Linked DNA regions of Homo sapiens: region 1 is linked to region 2. The links come from fine-mapping of genetic effects on gene expression. Tissue or cell type: tibial nerve. Region 2 holds a variant in brackets; the other region holds the start of a gene. All regions are shown on one strand. Distances are between the middles of the regions.

Region 1 (10,146 bases), 140 kb before region 2:
CCAGAGTCTCTGCTCGGCTCGGCCCAACCTTCTCCACCTAGGAAGTGGGCACGCTAGCTGGGGCTTCAGCAGAGTAAAGGGGGCAGGAGATGTGACAGGTGGGACAAGGGGTGGCTGTCAAGGGGCCAGAGAGGAGGGCCATGTCACTCCTCCCTCGCCCTCACCCGTCGACCGCCCCACCCCTCACCTTCCTCTGGATGGGTGTTGGCACCTTGTACCCCTTCTTCATGATGCCTTTGAACACCGGGTAGCTCAGGCCTGGGAGAGACATGAAACGGTCAGGGGGCCGAGGGAGTCCCCACAGCACCAACCCCAGAGAACTTTACAGGACAAATGACAGCTTCATCAACAATAAACAGCAAGGGAAAAAAAAAAGCAATAAAGCACAAACTGAAAGGTGAAATGAGACTTAGGAGACAGATCTGACTGGGGCACCTGAACCTTATCTGATTTTCTGATGTGAACCCACTCTTGATGTCATGAGACAGCAGGGATCTCTGAACACTAACGGGGTCTTAGGTGACACTAAGAAGCTGTGCCTTCGTTTTAGGCGTGGTAAGGTCCTGCGCCTCTTGGAAGTGTGTGTGGACACAATGAGGATGTCTGGAATGAACTTCAGAATCACCCGGGTGTGGGGAGGGACTCTTGTCCCTCTTGGTGGTGAGGGCATGGATGGGAGCTCACTTTGTTGCCCAAGCTGGACTTGAACTCCTGGCCTCAAGTGATCCTACCTCTGCCTCCCCAAACGCTAAGATTACAGGCATGAGTCATCGCACCCAGCACTCATCTTGATATTTAAATCCTTGCTCCAGCTGCTACTGATTTGTAAAGAGTAACAGAGTCAGGCTTTATTTCTGGCCAGCCAGGTGTCCCCACACCACCCACCCATTCCATCCTTTCCCTCCTTCTGAAATGTCCCTCTGCAGGCAATAAGTCCCCGACTGTCTTTGCCTGTTCCTGCATCTGCATTGCCTTTCCTGAGGCCTGTTCTAACTGCCCTCTCCTGTGTCAGGCCCGCTGCCCCACTAGAAGGCCCTGAATGACTGGAGGACCACATCTGCTACCCCGGTCTACCCAACCACAGTGCTGGGCCCAGAGTGGACATCAGTGATGGAGTGCAGAGGCGGGGTTGACCTCCAGCTGCCACTCCCGCAGAGTCCCTGATGCCAAGTTGCACCCACCCATGGACTGGAAGCCTCCAGACTTCTTCTTCTTCTTGTTCTGGGCACGCACCATCTCCCGGGTGTCCGGCTCCACATCCGAGGTGCATTCCGAGGTGGGGAAGGTGGGCAGGGGTCTTCCAGGTCCCAGCTGGGAGGGAAGGACAGAGAGGTGGTGTCACTCCAGGCACAGTGGGACCACAGGGGGCAGGGAAGGGGCCTGTGCTGTTGCCCTCTCTCCCCCATTCAAGCCAATGATGCTTCCGCCAGATCACGTCACTTTTTTGCTAGTAAGTTCTCCTTTGGCTGGGCCAGGACAGAAGTTTAGAGTGGGGTCTGCAGATAGACTGTCTCGGTTTGAATCTCAATCCCAAAAGTAAGTACATTTTTTTTTTTTTTTTAAGAGACAGGGTCTTACTCTGTCACCCAGGCTGGAGTACAGCAGTGCAGGCATGGCTCACTGCAGCCTTGAACTCCTAGGCTCAAGTGAGTCTCCCACCTTAGACTTCTGAGTAGCTGGGACTACAGGCGTATACTACCACATCTGGCTAATTTTTTTATTTTGTATTTATTTTTTTTTTTTTGTAGAGATGAGGTCTTACTGCATTGCCCAGGCTAGTCTTGAATTCCTGGCCTCAAGTATTCCTCCCTTCTTGGCCTCCCAAAGTGTTGGGATTACAGGCATGAACCACCACACCCAGCCCCTAAATACATTAAAGAGCCAATCGAAATGCCTACTATATGTGAAGTACTAGACTTTTCCAAGATCTCCCGCCCCCTACCCCCGCCCCATCAGCCGCCAACCAATCTCCTTTCTGATCTCTGGTCTGTCTCATGCCTGGCCTCCTTTCTGCTCACCCAGGACCCACTTGTCCTGGCACAGCTAAATCCAATCCAGACACCTCCTCTGGGGAACCTTCTTGGACTACAGGGCTGTCCCCTTTCTCTTAAAAATAGCATTCATGGCCAGGCGTGGTGGCTCACGCCTGTAATCCCAGCACTGGGAGGCTGAGGTGGGTGGATCATTTGAGCCCAGGAGTTCCCAGACTAGCCTGGGCAACATGGTAAAACCCCATCTTTACCAAAAAAGAAAAAAAAAAAAGCATTTACGGAGCAGCAATTCATAAGAGTGGCTGAAACTTACAAGGTATCTACTATAAGCTAGGTGCTGCTCTGAGAATTATACAAATTAACCCACTTAATCCTCACAACAATCTGATGAAGTGGGTACTATTGTTCTGTCCATTTTACAGAGAAGAAAACTGAGGCACAGAGATACAGTGACGTGCCCAAGGTCACACAGCCAGCAGGTAGTGGGTGAGGGATGTGAACCCTGGCTTCAGAGACTGTGTTCTTTTCACTGTGACCCTCTAAGATTAACTACAATCCTCTAGGGCAGAGCCATGGCCTGTCTTGAACAGTCTGTGAGTTTAGAACGGTTTTTACTTTTTAAAGGGTTGTAGAAAAGAAAAAGAAATCCAACAAAAAAGACAGTGATCTTATATGGCCCAACAAAACCTAAAAAAAAGATTTACCATCTGGCCCTTGATAGGTCTGCCAACCCCTGCTCTAGGTACATGAAAACAAGGTGCCTGGGACACACAGGCGCCTGCAATAGCTACTGAATGTATGAACAGCATGTCCTTCAGTCTTCTTCTTTTTTTTTTTTTGAGACAGTCTCGTTCAGTCACCCAGGCTGGAGTGCAGTGGCAGGATCTTGGCTCACTGCAGCCTCCACCTCCTGGGTCCAAGCAATTCTCCTGCCTCAGCCTCCCAACTAGCTGGGACTACAGGCACATGCCACCAGCCCGGCTAATTTTTGTATTTTCAGTAGAGATGGGGTTTCACCATGTTGGCCAGGCCGGTCTCAAACTCCCGACCTCAAGTGATCCGCTCACCTTGGCCTCCCAAAGTGCTCGGATTACAGGCATGAGCCACCACGCCCAGCCTCCTTTGGTCTTTTCAACACTTTTTTTTTTTTTTTGAGACAGAGTTTCACTCAGTCTCCCAGGCTGGAGTGCAGTGGGGCAATCACGGCTCACCTAGCTCAGGTGATCCTCCCACCTCAGCCTCCCAAGTAGCTGGGACTACAGGCACACACCACCATGCCTGGCTAATTTTTGTATTTTTTGTAGATGCAGTCTCGCCATGCATGTTGCCCAGGCTGGTCTCGAACTCCTGGCATCAAGTGATCCTCACTCCTCGGACTCCCAAAGTGCTGGGATTACGGGCATGAGCCACGGCACCGGGCCAACAACCTTTGAAACATATATAATCATTTACTTGCCTTCTACGGATGTGGAAACGGGCACAGAGAGGTTAAGCAACCTCTCCAATGTCCCACAGCCAGTGCAAGGTTGGGCCAAATTTGAACACAGGGCAGTGCCGTGAGAAGCCCTTGGTCTGAACTACACTTAGACTCCTCTTCTTTGGTAATAACCACCTCTGCCCGCCTGTGCTGTTCATTACCTTTAGTAGTTTCTCTACATTTGTTGAGCACCTACTGTGTGCCAGGTACTGGCTAGGCTGGAAGATGAGAGAGGGACAGTGGGATGAGGTCTCTTCTAGTTCCTGCCTTGGAGTGTGATCCTTTCTCTTCATATAAATGTCCACTTACTCATCTTGCCCTGAGCCTACCTGGTGCCAGGCACCCGCTGGGAACAGGACTGTGGGAAATAATGGGCGCAGCCCTTCTGCCCCATTGGTGCTCACACCCATCCCTTCATGTGCATACACATGACATTCAGTAATGGAAACGGCACAGGCCTTGGAATCAGACAGTCTCAAGTTTGAATCTCCTGGCTCTTGTACTCACAAGCTGTGAGGTCTTGGTCAAGCTGCTTTCTCTCTTTTTTTGTAAAGATGGGATCTCCCTTTTTTTTTTTTTTCTTTTTTTGGAGACAGAGTCTTGCTCTGTTGCTTATGATGGAGTGCAGTTGTGTAGCCACAGCTCACTGTACTCTCCGCCGCCCAGGTTTAAGTGATCCTCCCACATTGCCTCTCCAGGAGGTGGGACCACAGGTGGGCGCCACCAAGCCAGGCTAATTTTTATTTTTTGAGACAGAGTCTTGCTCTGTCACCCAGGCTGGAGTGCAGTGGTGCAATATCGGCTCACTGCAACCTCTGACTCCCAGTTTCAAGCGATTCTCCTGCCTCAGCCTCCCGAGTAGCTGGGATTACAGGCACATGCCACCACACCTGGCTATTTTTGTATTTTTAGTAGAGACAGGGTTTCACCATGTTGGCCAGGCTGGTCTTGAACTCCCGACCTCAGGTGATCCGCCTGCCTCAGCCTCCTAAAGTGCTGGGATTACAGGCGTGAGCCACCGCGGCCATCCTAATTTTTTAATTTTTTGTAGAGACGGGGTCTGCCTATGTTGCCCAGGCTGATCTTGAACTCCTGACCTCAAGCAATCCTCCCACCTCAGCCTCCCTAAGTGCTGGGTTTACAGGCGTGTAGCCACTACACCAGGCCTTTGACTATTTCTTAACCCTCTAGGCCTCAGTTTCCTCCTGTAGAAAAATGAAGATGACAGTTGCTGGTGGTGTTAGCACAACGTTGGTGTGAGGATTAAATAATAAGGCTCGTACAGCTCTTAGCATGGAGCCTGGCACATAGTAAACGGTCAACAAACACAAACTGGCCGGGCTCACGCCTGTTAATCCCAACACTTTGGGAAGCAGAAGTGGGAGGACTGCTTGAGGCCAGAAGTTCGAGACCATCCTGGGCAACATAGGGAGACCCCCGTCTCTACAAAAAATTTAAAAATTATCCGGGCGTGGTGGCGCATGTCTGTGGTCTCAGCTACCGGAGAGGCTGACGTGGGAGGATCGCTTGAGCCCAGGAGGCGGAGGCTGTAGCAAGGCGTGGCTACACAACTGCACTCCGGCATGAGCAACAGAGCAAGACTCTGTCTCAAAAAAAATTGTTTTAATTCGTTTCCCAGAGGTTTGGAGGCGTCACACTGTCTCAAGCCACGCAGTCTGGCCTCCCCTTAATTCAACCTCCCAAGAACGCTCCAAACTCTCAAAGTCAGATCTTCTGCACCCGCACTTTTCATTGGGCGAAAGGGAGCCAGGATCCGCCCCACGAGCAGGAGGCAGCCAATGAGAGACGCGCGACCAAAACCCGGCAGGAAGGCCCGCAGGCTCCAGCCCCGGGATCCCAAGGCTCTGGCCGCGGAACCCTGAGCCTGACAAGCCCCGAGACACGTGCTCAGGCCGGCGGTCCCAAGACCGGTCCTCGGGTCGGCAGCCTCCCTCCCCACACTCTGCGGAGCCCAATCCCCAGCTGGGGAAACTGAGGCCTCGAGGCGCTGCCCGGAGCCGGGTCTCGGGCCCGAACATGCGTCCCAGCCCCACGCGCCTACCTTCCGGGCCCGGGCGTCATCTTCCGCCTGGATCTCAAACTCGCCGTCCTCCGAGTCGCTGCCGCGGGCCTGGGAGGCCGCGCCTCGGCGCTTCCGGAGCCCTTTCTTCTTCCTCCACTGGGCCATGGCAGCTCGCGACCGAGGTCCAGCCGCCGGGCCCTTGTCGGCCGCCATTCGGGCCGCGCGCTGGGAACGCAGAAGGGGGCGTGGCCTGAGGAGCGCACCAACTGCGTGGGGGGGGGGGAGGTGCGGTGACCACGTGACCTCCGCTGAGCTTTCGCCAGTGCCTGCGGCCCTCGGCGGCCTAGTACACACGCACCTGAGTGAGTGGCACCAGAGGACCCTCTCCATGTTTAGGGACCTCCTGGGCCTCAGGAGCGTGGCGCCCGCCCCTGGGCGGACTCCCCCCATCCGCGGGCGCGAATGGTCCGGGCCGCGTCCGCAGTGCTGCTGGCTGCTCCCTGGTTGCTGGGTGCAAAGTGCTGGGTTCTGGGTTTCTGGATTCGCGGGCCGTTCACACGTAGCCTGTGCCGGCTCCTCGGGTGAGTCCGTCCGCGCGCGGTGCCCCGGGACGGCCTAGGCTGCCGGGGGTCCGGGGCCCCAGGCATTCCGGGCTGCAGATTGACGGGGATCCCGGATGCACCGCGCGCCCCCGCGCCCTCACCGACGGGTCCAGACCTGGTGGGAAGAAGGTGCGGGGACGGGTCCCTGAGGATCCCGATGCCTACGAGCCAAGATGCTCAGGTAGGAGAACAACCCAAAAATGCAGGGACCTCGGGCACTTTTTAATCGGGTCATTGATTTGGGAGTCGCAGAATGTGGGGCGGTGGGGGCGGCGGTGATCTCCCGATAGCAGTGTAGCCAAGTACACAAGCTCTGGACTCAGATTTCACTTCCACCGTTTTAGCTTTATAGGTGTGACCTACACATGTGACTTCACCTCAGTTTTGTGATCCGTAAAATGGACAAATTCGAAGCTACTTCACAGTGCTGTTGAGAGGATTAAATGAAACAATGCTTGTAAAGCTCTTTGCAGGAGGTAGGCATGGGATCCACGCTGGCTGTCATTGCCCCCACCCCCATCAGTACACATAGGAAAGTGCCTGTCTCCCCTACCACCATAGTGTGTTTTCTGGTTGGTGCCTAAATAGACACAGGTGTCATCTCTCCTTCACCGCCAGAGTCATTCTGTAAATAATTGCCAGTAGCCCCCCTTTCACCACCATTATGACAACTAAAAAAAAGCCAAAGAAATTTCCAAAATGCCCCCTGAAGTTGACAGCTCCCCTTTGAGAGACTGGTTGAGAGAGAACTAAACCCTTGGGATGAGAACTTCAGACACTACCGGTCTTCCTCCATTAGCACTTCTGTGGCTCAGGGGTGCTACTCTGACCTCCTCTCACAGGGAGCCTCGGAAGCAGGGCCTGGCCGGCAGAGCACACCTGCTGTCACCAGGGACCACAGGCAGCATGAAGACCCCCGTGGAGCTGGCCGTCAGTGGGATGCAGACCCTCGGCCTTCAGCACCGCTGCCGAGGTGGCTACCGGGTCAAGGCCAGGACGTCATATGTGGATGAGACTCTGTTTGGCAGCCCAGCAGGCACCCGGCCTACCCCACCGGACTTCGATCCGCCCTGGGTGGAGAAGGCTAACAGAACCAGAGGCGTGGGCAAGGAGGCATCGAAGGCCTTGGGGGCAAAGGGGAGCTGTGAGACCACCCCCTCAAGGGGCAGCACCCCCACCCTCACACCAAGGAAGAAGAACAAATACAGGTAATGGGGTAGGGAGATGCAAATCCTGTACTCAGTGCAGCCACCTGGATTCCAGTTACAGCTCTGGTGTTCACCTGCTCTGTGACCTTGGGCAAGCATCTTGACCTCTCTGAGCCAGTTTACTCATGTGGAAAATAGGACCAATTATTCCTACCTAGGGGGATTGTTGATGGATTAAATGAGAGAGGGGTCTGCAGTGCTTCGCACAGTAACCTAATACTTAGAAAGCTGTCAATAAATGGTAGTGTTGATGGTTGTGATGGTGAACTCCCTATCCCCAAATGTCACAAACTGGGCATCTGAGGCCCAGAGGAGTCAGCTGAGGCATAAGATCACAGAGAAATTTGCATAAGCTTATTAATATTAATGTGTTCGATCCTTGAAATGACATAGATGTGGTGTTTCTGAAGTCATTTTGAAAATGGGTTTTGGCCACATGGGGTAGCTCATGCCTGTAATCCCAGAACGTTTGGAGGTTGAGGTGGGATCACTTGAGCTCAGGAGTTTGAGACCAGCCTGGGCAGCGTGGTGAAACTGTGTCTCTATAAAAAATGCAAAAATTAGCCAAGTGTGGTGGTGTGCGCCTGTACTCCCAGCTCCCGGGAGGCTGAGGTGGGAGGATCACTTGAGCCTAGGAGGCAGAGATTGCAATGAGCTGAGATCACGCCTCTGCACTCCAGCCTGAGTGACAGAGTGAGACCCTGTCTCCAAAAAAAAAAAAAAAAAAAAATTGAAAATGGTTCTTGCTGCATTTTTATGAACAAGTTAGAAAAATAGGAACTAATGCAAATTGTTATTGTTGTTAATTAATTAGATTAGAATTAGATTATTTGGACTGTTTCAGATTAATATCAGCCTGGAGGGAGGTGTCTAGTGGTGAGCCACAGGGCTCTGTCCTGTTTATTGTTATCAGTGGTTTGGACAAAGACACAGAAGATTAGCACAGTAGTTGGCTAGGGCCACCATGACAAAATACCACAGACTGGGTGGCTTAAACAACACAATTTTTTTTTTTTTTGAGATGGAGTCTCGCTCTGTTGCCCAGGCTGGAGTGCAGTGGCACGATCTTGGCTCACCACAACCTCCACCTCCCGGGTTCAAGCGACTCTCCTGCCTCAGTCTCCTGAGTAGCTGGGACTACAGGCACATGCCACCATGCCTGACTTAATTTTTTTTTTTTTTTTTTGAGACGGAGTTTTGCTCTTGTTGCCCAGGCTGGAGTGCAGTGGAGCCATCTCAGCTAACCTGAACCTCTGCCTCCCAGGTTCAAGCGATTCTCCTGCCTCACCCTCCCTGGTAGCTGGGATTACGCCACCATGCCTGGCTAATTTTGTATTTTTAGTAGAGACGGGGTTTCTCCATGTTGGTCAGGCTGATCTTGAACTCCCGACCAGGTGATCCACCTGCCTTGGCCTCCCGAAGTGCTGGGATTACAGGCATGAGCCACCGCGCCTGGCCACAACACAAATTTATTTTGTCACAGTCTGGAGGCTGGAAGCCCAAGATCAAGGTGTTGGCAGGTTTGGTTTCTCCTGAGGCCTCTCTCCTTGGCTTGCAGTTGGCCACGTTCTCACAGTGTCATCATAGGGCCTTTTCTCATTTTTTTTTAATCCTTCAATTACATGCAAGGGCCTTTTCTGTATACACACACACCCCTGATGTCTCTTCCTCTCATAAGGACACCAGTTCTATTGGATTAGGATCCCCTACCCTTATAATGTTATTTAGCCTTAGTTACCTTTTTTTTTTTTTTTTTTTTTTTTTTTTTTTTTTTTTTTTTGAGATGGAGTCTGGCTCTGTCGCCCAGGCTGGAGTGCAGTGGCACCATCTCGGATCACTGCAGCCTCCACCTCCGGGTTCAAGGAATTCTCCTGCCTCAGCCTCCCGAGTAGCTGGCATTACAGGTGCACGCCACCATGCCTGGCTAATTTTTGTATTTTTAGTAGAGACGGGGTTTCACTGTGTTGGCCAGGCTGGTCTCAAACTCCTGAGCTCAAGTCGTTCTCCCGCCTCTGCTTTCCAAAGTGCTGGAATTACAGATGTGAGCCACCATGTCTGGCCAGCCTTAATTACCTTTAATTAATCTAAATAATTAAGGCCAAGTGTAGAGACATTTGGGGTTAGGGCTTCAACATATGAATTTGGGTGGGCACAATTCAGTCCATAAGAACTGGCCAGCTAAAGTTAGGGTTCATTCTGAACCACAGGGACATATTTCAGATGAGAGAAATGAAATGAGAATGGGAATGATACCTATTATAAAAACAAGAATCAGTTATTGCCAGTTCTGTAGACAAGGCAGGGTCAGGTGGAGATTAGCAACACTGATACCTACAACATGGCTGAAAACACTGAGGTAAAGATAGGCTGCATTAGGAAGTATGGTGTCCATGAAAAGGGAGGTGACAACTCCTTGCTCACCTGGAGGGTGGAATTTTCTTCTGGATGCCAACAGGTAGAGGGTGTCAAGTGAGGGGTTGCATAAGAGGTAGAGAAGTTATTGAGCAAAAACCTTGGCACCAGACATATACAGGCATTAGCCAATGTGGTTTGAGCAGCTAAACCAAGTGGCAAAAGCTTGCCCTTTCAAAGACTTGCAGTTTGGGGATAGAAGCACTTTCAGTCCTGGCCAAAAAAACTATGGGCGTGGAATCTTGCAGGTATGCCGTGAATATCTGTTGAATAAAAAAAAAAAAAAAAAAAAAGGCCAGACAGGCTGACTCAGGCCTGTAGTCCCAGCACTTTGGGAGGCTGAGGTGGGAGGATCGCTTGAGCTCCAGAGTTTGAGACCAGCCTGGGCAACATAGTGAGATCCCTGTCTCTACAAAAAATAAAAATATTAGCA
Region 2 (10,146 bases):
AATTAGGTAGGCATGGTGATGTGCACTTGTAGTCCCAGCTACTCAGGAGACTGAGGTGGGAGGATCACCTGAGCCCAGGAGGTTGAGGCTGCAATACTGCATTTAGCTTGGGGAATAGAATGAGATCTTGTCTCAAAAAAAAAAAATATGTATCTCAATTACTCTGCACAACAGTCTGCGAGGAAGGAACTATTATCATGCCCATTAAACAGTTAAGGAGACTGAGACAATGTCCGTGTGCACTCAGTGGGAGGGTCAAGGTTGGAACCCAGGCAGTTTTAGGCTCTAGGGCCCACTGTTCTCCCCTGCCTCCCCACAGAGTCTTTCACTGCAGCAGAGTATTTCATACTATGGGTGATACATCACTGAGGTAAACATTTCCCTACTGGGCATTTGGGTATGCCTAGTTTTTCAATATAGCCAATGAGCTTCCTCACACATGACTCTCTGAGCACATATGAGAAAAATGTTGTCAGAGAAGATTTGAGAAGAGAAAGTGCTGAATCAGAGGGTATCCTGGTCTGGGTTCCTCCAGAAGCTGACTCAGAGACAAAGATTGAGATGGACATAGTATGTTTGGGAGACCTGAGGAACACAAACATAGAGAAAGGGAAGTGGGCCCGGGTGTGGTGGCTCACGCCTGTAACTGTAGCATTTTGGGAGGCCAAGGCTGCAGGATCACTTGACCTCAGGAGTTCGAGACCAGCCTGGGCAACATGACAAAACTCCATCTCTACAAAAAATACAAAAAAAACTAGCCGGGCTTGGTGGCATACGCCTGTAGTCCCAACTACTCAGGAGGAGGAGGTGGGAGGAGCACCTGAGCCTGGAAGTTCAAGGTTGCAGAGAGCTATGATTGTACCACTGCAGTCCAGCCTGGGTGACAGAGTGAGACCCTGTCTCAAAAGAAAAAAATAAAAGAAATAGGAGAAAAGAAGTGGTACAGAGAAGGGATAGCTGCCAACGAAGGCTGGGTTGAGCCAGTTACCACCACCATGAGCTTAATCAGGAGGCAAGGGAGCTGGGATATTTATACACCAACTCTCATCAGCCATTGGGTGAGGACTGCTAGATGGAGGTTTTAGTTCCCCAGCACCTCTAGCCTACTATGCTTATAAGTGGTTCTAGAACAATAAACTGGCAACTGGAAGTCAACAAAAGCCCACCAAAATAGTACAGTCCAAAAGAAATGCTCAAGGCCCTGACAAGGGATCTTCAACATTGCTAGATTTTGCCAAAATGCCCTGGCCAAGCTCTACCTACATACACTCCCACCAGGAATGGGAAATAAGCAATTCTCATAAGCCTGCACCCACATTGGCTATGAGCAGCCTTATTCAGATCAATGTGATAGGAATGTCATTGTTAAACTGCAAGTCTGGCCAGGTGTGGTGGCTCATGCCTGTAATCCCAGCACGTTGGGAGGCCGAGGTAGGCGGATCACTTGAGGTCAGGAGTTCATGACCAGCCTGGTCAACATGGGGAAACCCCGTCTCTACTAAAAATACAAAAATGAGCCAGGCGTGGTGACATCCACCTGTAGTCCCAGCTACTCAGGAGGCTGAAGCAGGAGAATCGCTTGAACCCAGGAGGCAGAGGTTGCAGTGAGCCAAGATCATACCACTGCACTCCAGCCTGGGTGACAAAGTGAGACTCCATCTCAAAAAAAAACAACAACAAAAAAAGCTAAGACAGTAAATTTTAGGTTATGTGTATTTCATTATAATTTTTTAAAAGCTTTGTCAAACCACAGTTCCACCTCCTCCACAAGCCCTCTCTGAACTCCCACTAACACCAGACTGGAAGTGAGATTTCTTATCTCTGAGCCTCTGGCCTTCTCACCAATTTTTGCTAAGAGCTCTACCCACCCATACAGTATCCCCTGAGCAGAGACTGAAACCCCCAGCCCTGCCCCAACCCCTCAATCTTTCTACAGTGTCCTGTCCTCAGAAAGCACATGCCAGCTGGGAAGATGAAATCTGTGGCCAGGTAAACTGGCTCACACCTGTAATCCCAACACTTTGGGAGGCTGAGGCAGGAGGATCGCTTAAGCCCAGGAGTTTGAGACCAACTTGGGTAACATAGTAAGACCCCATTGCTACAAAAAAATTTAAAAATGAGCCAGGCATGGTGGCACACGCCTGTGGTTCCAGCTACTTCAGAGGCTGAGGTGAGAGGATTGCTTGAGTCTGGGAGGTTGAGGCTGCAGTGAGCTATGATGGCACCACTGCTCTCCAGCCTGGGTGACAGAGCAAGCCTGTCTCAAAAAAAAACAAACAAACAAAAAAAAAAACTTTTCTTTTTTTGAGATCAGGACAACCTGAGCATAATACCCACTCAGCCACTCAGCTCTACCTTTTTTTTTTTTTTTTTTTTTGGAGACAGAGTCTCCCTCTGTCACCCAGGCTGGAGTACAATAGCACAATCTCGGCTCACTGAAACCTCCACCTCTCGGGTTCAACTGATTCTCCTGCCTCAGCCTCCCGAGTAGCTGGGACTACAGGTGCCCACCGACACGCCCGGCTAAGTTTTGTATTTTTAGTAGAAATGGGGTTTCACCACGTTGGCCAGGCTGGTCTCAAACTTCTGACCTCAAGTGATCTACCTGCCTTGGCCTCCCAGAGTGCTAGGATTACAGGTGTGAGCCACTGCGCCCAGCCCCTTTTTTTTCCTTTGAGACAGAGTCTCACTCTGTCGCCTAGGCTGGAGTGCAGTAGAGCAATCTTGGCTCACTGCAACCTCCACCTCCTGGGTTCAAGTGATTCTCCTGCCTCAGCCACCTGAGTAGCTGGAACTACATGCACACAACACCACACCTGGCTAATTTTTGTATTTTTGGTAAAGATGAGGTTTCACTGTGTTGGCCAGGCTGGTCTTGAACTCCTGACCTCAAGTGATCCACCTACTTCAGCCTCCCAAAGTACTGGGATTACAGGTGTGAGCCTCCATGCCCAACCAGCTCTACCATCTAAGAGCTGTATCTGTAGCAATTCCCTTCCTCTCTTTGAGCTTCAGTCTCATTTGTAAAATGGGACTAATTATACCAACCCCATTGATAAAAGAATCAAATGAGATTACAGGTGTTCAAATTTGCCCTCCTCAGAGACTTTCCATGTAAAGTAGTTATTACCCCTATCTCCACTATTAATACCCAGTTTTCTGCATTCACAGCAGTTATCACAATCTTTATTTTGTTCATTTCCTTGTTTACTGAATTTTATTATTTTAGAGACCAGGTGCTTTGTCACTCAGGCTGGAGTGCAGTGGGGCAATCATGGCTCACTTCAGCCTCGAACTCCTGGGCGCATGTGATCCTCCTGCCTTTGCCTCCCAAGTAGCTGGGACTACAGGCATGCACCACCACACCCAGTTAATTTTTTTAAAAATTATTTTTTGTAGAGATGGAGGTCTTGCTATGTTGCCTAGGCTGGTCTTCAACTCCTGGCCTCAAGCCATCCTCCCACCTCAGCCTCCCATTGTGCTGGGATTATAGGCGTGAACCACCAAACCTGGCCTTAATTTTTTTTTTTTTTTTTGAGACGGAGTCTCGCTCTTTCGCCCAGGCCAGACTGCAGTGGCGCTATCTCGGCTCACGGCAAGTTCCGCCTCCCAGGTTCACACCATTCTCCTGCCTCAGCCTCCCGAGTAGCTGGGACTACAGGCGCTCGCCACCACGCCCAGCTAATTTTTTGTATTTTTAGTAGAGATGGGTTTCACCGTGTTAGCCAGGATGATCTCGATCTCCTGACCTTGTGATCCACCCGCCTCGGCCTCCCAAAGTGCTGGGATTACAGGCGTGAGCCACCGCGCCCAGCCCTGAATTTTTTTTGTCTGCATTCTTGTATTTGCCCTGAGCCTGGCCTGTAGTAGGGGCTTAATACATTTGTGTTAATGGCTGCTTGAATGACTAAGTGATTTTGTGTAGCCTTTCCAACACTCCTGCGAGGCAAATGGAATGATTCCCCTTTAACATATGGGTAAGCCAAGGGTCAGCAAACTTCGGCCCCTGGACCACATCCAGCCCACCATCTGGTTATGCACAGCCTGCAAGCCAAGAATGATTCTTACATTTTTAAATGGTTGGGAGACATAAATCAAAAGAAGAATTTTCCATGACATGTAAAATTATATAAAACTCAAGTTTCCATTTCCATAAATATTTACTGGGGCACAGCCACACCCATTCGTTGATGTACAATCTGTGGCTACTCAGGCACTGTGAGAGCAGTGAGTAGTT[G/T]TAGAAACCATGTAGCCCACAAAGCTGAAAATATTTACTGTCTAGCTCTTATTCTATTCTTTCTTTCTTTTCTTTTTTCTTTTTTATTTACTTATTTATTTTGAGACGGAGTCTTACTCTGTTGCCCAGGCTGAAGTACAGTGGTGAGATCTCAGCTCACTGCAACCTTTGCCTCCTGGGTTCAAATTATTATCCTGCCTCAGCCTCTGGAGGAGCTGGGATCACAGATATGTGCCACCACGCCTGGCTGATTTTTTTATTTTTAGTAGAGATGGGGTTTCACCATGTTGGCCAGGCTAGTCTCAAACTCCTGGCCTCAAGTGATCCACCAGCCTCCGCCTCCCAAAGTGCTGGGATTACAGGTGTGAGCACTGTGACTGGCCTCTTTTCTTTCTCTCTCTTTTTTTTTTTTTGAGACAAGGTCTCACTGTTGCCCAGGCTGGAGTGCAGAAGCATGATTATAGCTCACTGCAGCCTCAAACTCTTAGGCTTAAGGAATTCCCCCGACTTCAACCTCCCAAGTGGCTGGAGCTACAAATGTGAGCCCACAACCCGGCCCTACTATCTGGCTCTTTACAGAAAGTCTGTGCCCCAGGCTGGAGTGATGGTGTGCACATCCCAACCCAGGCTTGGGAATCTCCATCAACTATTCCCACCAAAACATGCAGATGCAAGTCTCAAGTTTCTGTCCTGAGCTTCCCTTATCCCATCCCCAGCTCCCACCCAAAAGCAACAGTCAGGCTGGGCTCCTTCCATACTGGGAGGGGGAGGGTTTCAGTCTTGCCCTAAGCCTGGGCCTGTGGCTTTGCTGGGGCCCAGGAATTTCCCAGGGAGATAAAGTCACCCAAGGGGTTTCTGACAAAGAGGGTCCCACCCAGCACAAGGAGGAAGGACACTAGATGGGGGCCAGGGAAGCAGGCGGGCTGCCATTTCCTCCTCTGGGAGGAACAATAATAATCATATTGGGAGGCAGTACAGCTCCCTCTACTGAGCCCTCCTCTCTCATGAAACTGCCTGGTTGAAATTCTAATTTGCGTCCTTCTAGGTGAGTGATTTTGGGCAAGTAAATTAACCTCAGTGTTCTCCTCTGAACAATGGGGGCAATAACACCCACAAGCCTAGACAGGAATGGGATAAGGACATGGAGGCCAGGCATTGTGGCTCACATCTGTAATCCCAGTGCCTGAGCCCATGAGTTTGAGACCAGCCTGGCCAACATGGTGAAACTCCATCTCCACTAAAAATATAAAAATTAGCCAGGCACGGTGGCGTGTGCCTGTGTTCCCAGCTACTCAGGAGGCTGAGGCAGAATAACTTGAACCCGGGAGGCGGAGGTTGCAGTGAGCCAAGATCACACCATTGCACTCTAGGCTGGGCAACAGAGTGAGACTCTGTCTCAAAAAAAAAAAAAAAAATAGGCTGGGCGCGGTGGGTCACACCTGTAATCCCAGCACTTTGGGAGGCCAAGGCAGGTGGATCACCTGAGGTCAGGAGTTCGAGCCCAGCCTGACCAACATGGTGAAACCATCTCTACTAAAAATACAAAAAGCCGGGCATGGTGGCAGATGTCTGTAATCGCAGCTACTTGGGAAGCCAAGGCAGGAGAATCGCTTGAACCCAGGAAGCAGAGGTTGCAGTGAGCTGAGATTGCACCATTGCACTCCAGCCTAGGCAACAAGAGCGAAACTACGTCTCCAAAAAAAAAAAAAAAAGGTTGCATTATCATCATCTAAGTTTTAATTATTTATTTATTTATTTATTTATTTAGAGACAGGTTCTGTCTATGTCACCCAGGCTGGAGTGCAGTGGCGTGATCACAGCTCACTCCAGCCTCAACCACTCAGGCTCAAGCAGTCTCCTACCTCAGCCTCCTGAGTAGCTGGCACCACAGGTGCGCATCACACGAGGCTAATTTTTAAATTTTTTGTTGAGAAGGGGTCTCGCCTTGTTGGCCAGGCTAGTCTCAAACTCCTGGGCTCAAGTGATCCTCCCGCCTCGGCCTTCCAACGTGCTGGGATTACACAGGTGGGCCACCAAGCCTGGCCAGAAATTTTTCTCTCTTAAACAATACTTGAATTCATCCCTTCCTTCCATCTCCACCAGCACGGAGAACAACTGCAGAGGTTCTCATCTGGCCTCCTACCCCCAATCTTACCAGAGGGGCTCTTTCTAATGTGCTCCCTCCTCCAGCTGCTGAAGAGCTCTCCTTTGCCTGTTTTTGGTCCCTGTGTTCTGCCCTTGTCAGTCTCCAGTAAAGCTCGTCTGGTCAGCTGTCAGGTCCTGGAATGCCCAGACCCTCCTGGCATTGGTCCAGCTTTTGTACATGCTGTTCCTTCTGCCTGGTGCCACGATTATTTTTCCTCTATTTAATCCACATTCACCACCCAATTCTTGGTTCCCAGGACACTTCTTGCAGGAAGCCCTCCCTGACTACTCCCAGCCTAGCTGGCCCTCCCAGTTACTTTTTTTTTTTTTTTTCCTTTTTTGAGATGGAGTCTTACTCCATCGCCCAGGCAGGAGGGCAGTGGTATGATCTCAGCTCACTGCAACCTCCATCTCATGGGTTCAAGAGATTCTCCTACCTCAGCCTCCCGAGTAGCTGGGATTGCAGACGTCCACCACCATGCCCAGGTAATTTTTGTATTTTAGTAGAGATGGGGTTTTGCTATGTTGGCCAGGCTGGTCTCGAAATCCTGGCCTGAAGTGATCCACCTGCCTCGGCCTCCCAAAGTGCTGGGATTACAGGTGTGAGCCACCGCACCCAGGCAGGATCATAGACTTGCTTAATATCTGCCCCTCCCACTAAAGTCTCGCACAGTGCCTGGCAGAGTAGGCCCTCCTAACAGTTGTGCTGCACACCGTGCTGGGCATCATCTCACCCATTCAGTCTTCATCAGAGACCCAGGAGGTTGGCACAATTGTTTCCACTTCACAGATGAGAAAACTGAGGCACAGAGAGGCAAAGTGGCTTGCCCAGGAGCACACAGCCCACCACTGAGAAGTGGCTCCAAACTCAGCTCCGCCTGAAAGTTACTCGCTGAAGCTCCTGAGGAAACTGCCCAACTGGGCAGGGGCAGCCTCCATTTCCTGTCCTCTCACTATCTTCCTGCCCTCCCTCCTCCCTGTCCTCGGGGTCAGCTAGGGAGGATGCAGGGAGTCACCCCATCTCCCTGATGGCAGAGTGAGTCAGCAAGGTGGGTCCCCCAAATCTGGCCTCCAAAATCACATTACTGTGCAGTCTGTCTCGCTCTGCCCTCCCCGAGCTGCACAGCCCTCCCCCAGGTCCCTCAGGACCCCTCCCCAGCTCTCTGCTCAAGAGAGACAGAGTAAGGTGGGATTGCTCTGCGTCTGGGGGAGGGAAGGAGTGACTTCACTTCCTTCCAGTCCTTCCCACCCTCTTTCCTATGTCACTAACTCAGTCCCAGGAAACCCAAAGAGGTGCACACAGAGGTCAGGCTGGACAGGAAAGGGTAACCAACTCAATACCTTGGAATTCTTATAAAAACTTACATCAGATCACATCCTCTTGTGCTCTAAAGCCTCCCATGGCTCCCACCTTCCTCCCACTGACAGCCAAGTCTACAGTGGTCCCCAGGGCCCCTGTTCTCTCCTGCCTGGTCTCCCTTCCTTCTCCCTTGCTCACTGTTCCAGCCACTTTGCAAAATCTGTCATTCTGCTCCTGCCCCAGGGCCTTTGCATCTACTGTTCCCTCACTTCCCCTGGATCTTCATAAGCCATTCAGGTCTCAGTCTAAATGTCATGTCCTCAGAGAGGCCTTCCATGATAGCCTAAGCAAAGCAGCACCCCCCTCCCCCTCACCCTGTGGAATGATTTGTCAACTTGCTTCTCATCCATGACCCCACTAGAGTATAAGCTCCAGGGGGGCAGGGACCAGGCTCTCTGCTTCCTGCTATCCCCTCAGCACATGGCACAGGCCCTGGCACATAGTAGGTGCTCAATAACTATTTGTTGCATTAATGACTACTTGAAAAGGACCTAAGGTAAGGGGCTGGGGGGGCCTTTCCCAGCCTGCAGGCTCCCTGGATGGTGGGGACTTCCAGAAAGGCAGCTGCCCCATCTGTCCTGTGAGGCGGTGGACTAGAGGGGAAGGGGATGGATTTAGCATGAAGCAGCCAAGGGTTCTCATCCTGGCTCTGCCACTTTCCTCCTGGCCACCTTCACCTCCCTGAACCTTGGAGTCTTCATCTATAGCACAGAGATAATCACTCCCACCTCACGGGGTTTGGGGGAGGACTTGTGGGCACAAGGCTGATCTAAGTGCTCAATAACTTGGAGAGATTATCTGGCACAATTATCTGGTATGATCTCCCAGTTTTCCTGCCCCCAAGGAGCACGCTCCAAGAGGGGGTACTCAATTTTATAACCACAGTAACCACAAACCACTTTCCCATCTGTAAAATGGGCTTAATTGCCTGTTGCCTGTTTCACAGGGTGGACTTGAAGGCACTTTGCAGCCTCATAAAGTTGCTGTGGGCATTGAATGCTCTCAGCCCATCAGTTTGAGTTTGGGATTCCTGCTGAAGAAATGGTGAGAACTCCAGTCCCTGGCAGCTACAGGGCACTCCAGGGGGTCATCTTGAGCAGTCCTCTGCTTTTGTTCCTTCACTCCAGATCTGCTGTGACCTCCTCTTCTCCCCTTACAGACATCAGAGCGGAAAGATGCAAGTTCTCTGTAGCCTGTCTCAACAGGCTGTGCCCTCCCTGCCCTGGGAGGAAGGCCTCTTGCCTCTAACTCCAGCGTCGTCATTGGTCCTCCCTCAGTGCTCCCCATTCAAATCACAGCACCAGCACACCCTCAGCTGATCAGGCCAGGAACCTGGAGCCATCCACAACTCCTCTCTTTCTCCCACCACTGGGAGAAAGAGAGAGGGTGGGAGTTCAATACCAGCCTGGCCAACATGGTGAAACCCTGTTTCTACTAAAAATACAAAAAAATTAGCCAGGTGTGGTGGTGTGCACCTGTAATCCCAACTACTCGGGAGGCTGTGCATAAGAATCGCTTGAACCCGGGAGGTGGAGGTTGCAGTGAGCTGAGATCGTGCCATTGCACTCCAGCCTGGGTATAGAGTGAGACTGTTCTCGAAAAAAAAAAAAAAAAAAAAAATTGAGTCAGTGGACTGGGAAAAGCAGACCCACCCTCAATCTGGGTGGGTGCAATCTAATCAGCTACCAGCACAGCCAGAATAAAAGCAGGCAGAAGAATGTGGAAAGACTAGACTGGCTTGGTCTTCTGGCCTGCATCTTTCTCCCATGCTGGATGCTTCCTGCCCTCAAACATCAGACTCCAAGTTCTTCAGCTTTGGGACTCTTGGACCTTCAGCCACAGACTAAAGGCTGCACTGTCAGCTTCCCTGCTTTTGAGGTTTTGGGACTCAGACTGACCTCCTCGCTCTTCAGCTTGCAGATGACCTATTGCGGGACCTCACCTGTGATCATGTGAGTCAATATTCCTTTAAAAACTCCCCTTTACATATACATCTATCCTATTAGTTCTGTCCCACTAGAGAACTCCGACTAACACAGATTTTGGGACCCTCTGCTTAAAACCTTCCATTGGCTCCCCACTATCGCAAAACAATTCTCACCTCCTAGCCGCAGCCTGTAAGGCCTTTTGTAATCTGCCCGCCATTACCTCTCCATCCTCCTCTCTTAGCATTCTTCCCCTCACTTGCTCTGTTCCATCCATTCTAGCCTCCCTGCTGTTACGGGAACACACTAAGCTTGTTCCTGCTCCAGAATCTTTGTACTTGCTGTTCCCTTTGCCCAGAATGCTCTTCCCCGGGGTGTCAATGTAGGTGGTTTCCTCTCTCCATTCGCTGGCTTGCCTCAAATATCACCCCCTCACAGAAGCCATCTGTGACCACCCAATCTGAAATAGTTGGAAAAGC

The links. PIP is the estimated chance that this variant, and not a neighbour inherited with it, causes the effect.
Region 1: it holds the start of RITA1, and the variant in region 2 is the best candidate, but not a certain one, in a credible set for the expression of RITA1 in tibial nerve (GTEx, PIP 0.63).

The regions. Positions count from the first base shown.
Region 1 is chr12:113,179,748-113,189,893 of GRCh38, forward strand. It overlaps RITA1 (RBPJ interacting and tubulin associated 1), which reads left to right and starts at 5,974. Exons shown (of 4, transcript NM_032848.3): 1 at 5,974-6,274; 2 at 6,438-6,569; 3 at 6,936-7,301. The coding sequence starts at 7,000. It overlaps DDX54 (DEAD-box helicase 54), which reads right to left and starts at 5,731. Exons shown (of 20, transcript NM_024072.4): 1 at 5,531-5,731; 2 at 1,182-1,311; 3 at 188-258. The coding sequence starts at 5,704. RefSeq lists enhancers at 5,548-5,627, 5,665-6,314, 6,315-6,965, 6,966-7,615 and a silencer at 6,118-6,257.
Region 2 is chr12:113,322,047-113,332,192 of GRCh38, forward strand. All of the region lies in intron 2 of SLC8B1 (solute carrier family 8 member B1), which reads right to left. Among named protein-coding and RNA genes, the nearest start is that of SLC8B1, 8.0 kb to the right of the region's middle. RefSeq lists a silencer at 445-645. The variant G/T (reference allele first, on the strand shown) is at 4,238.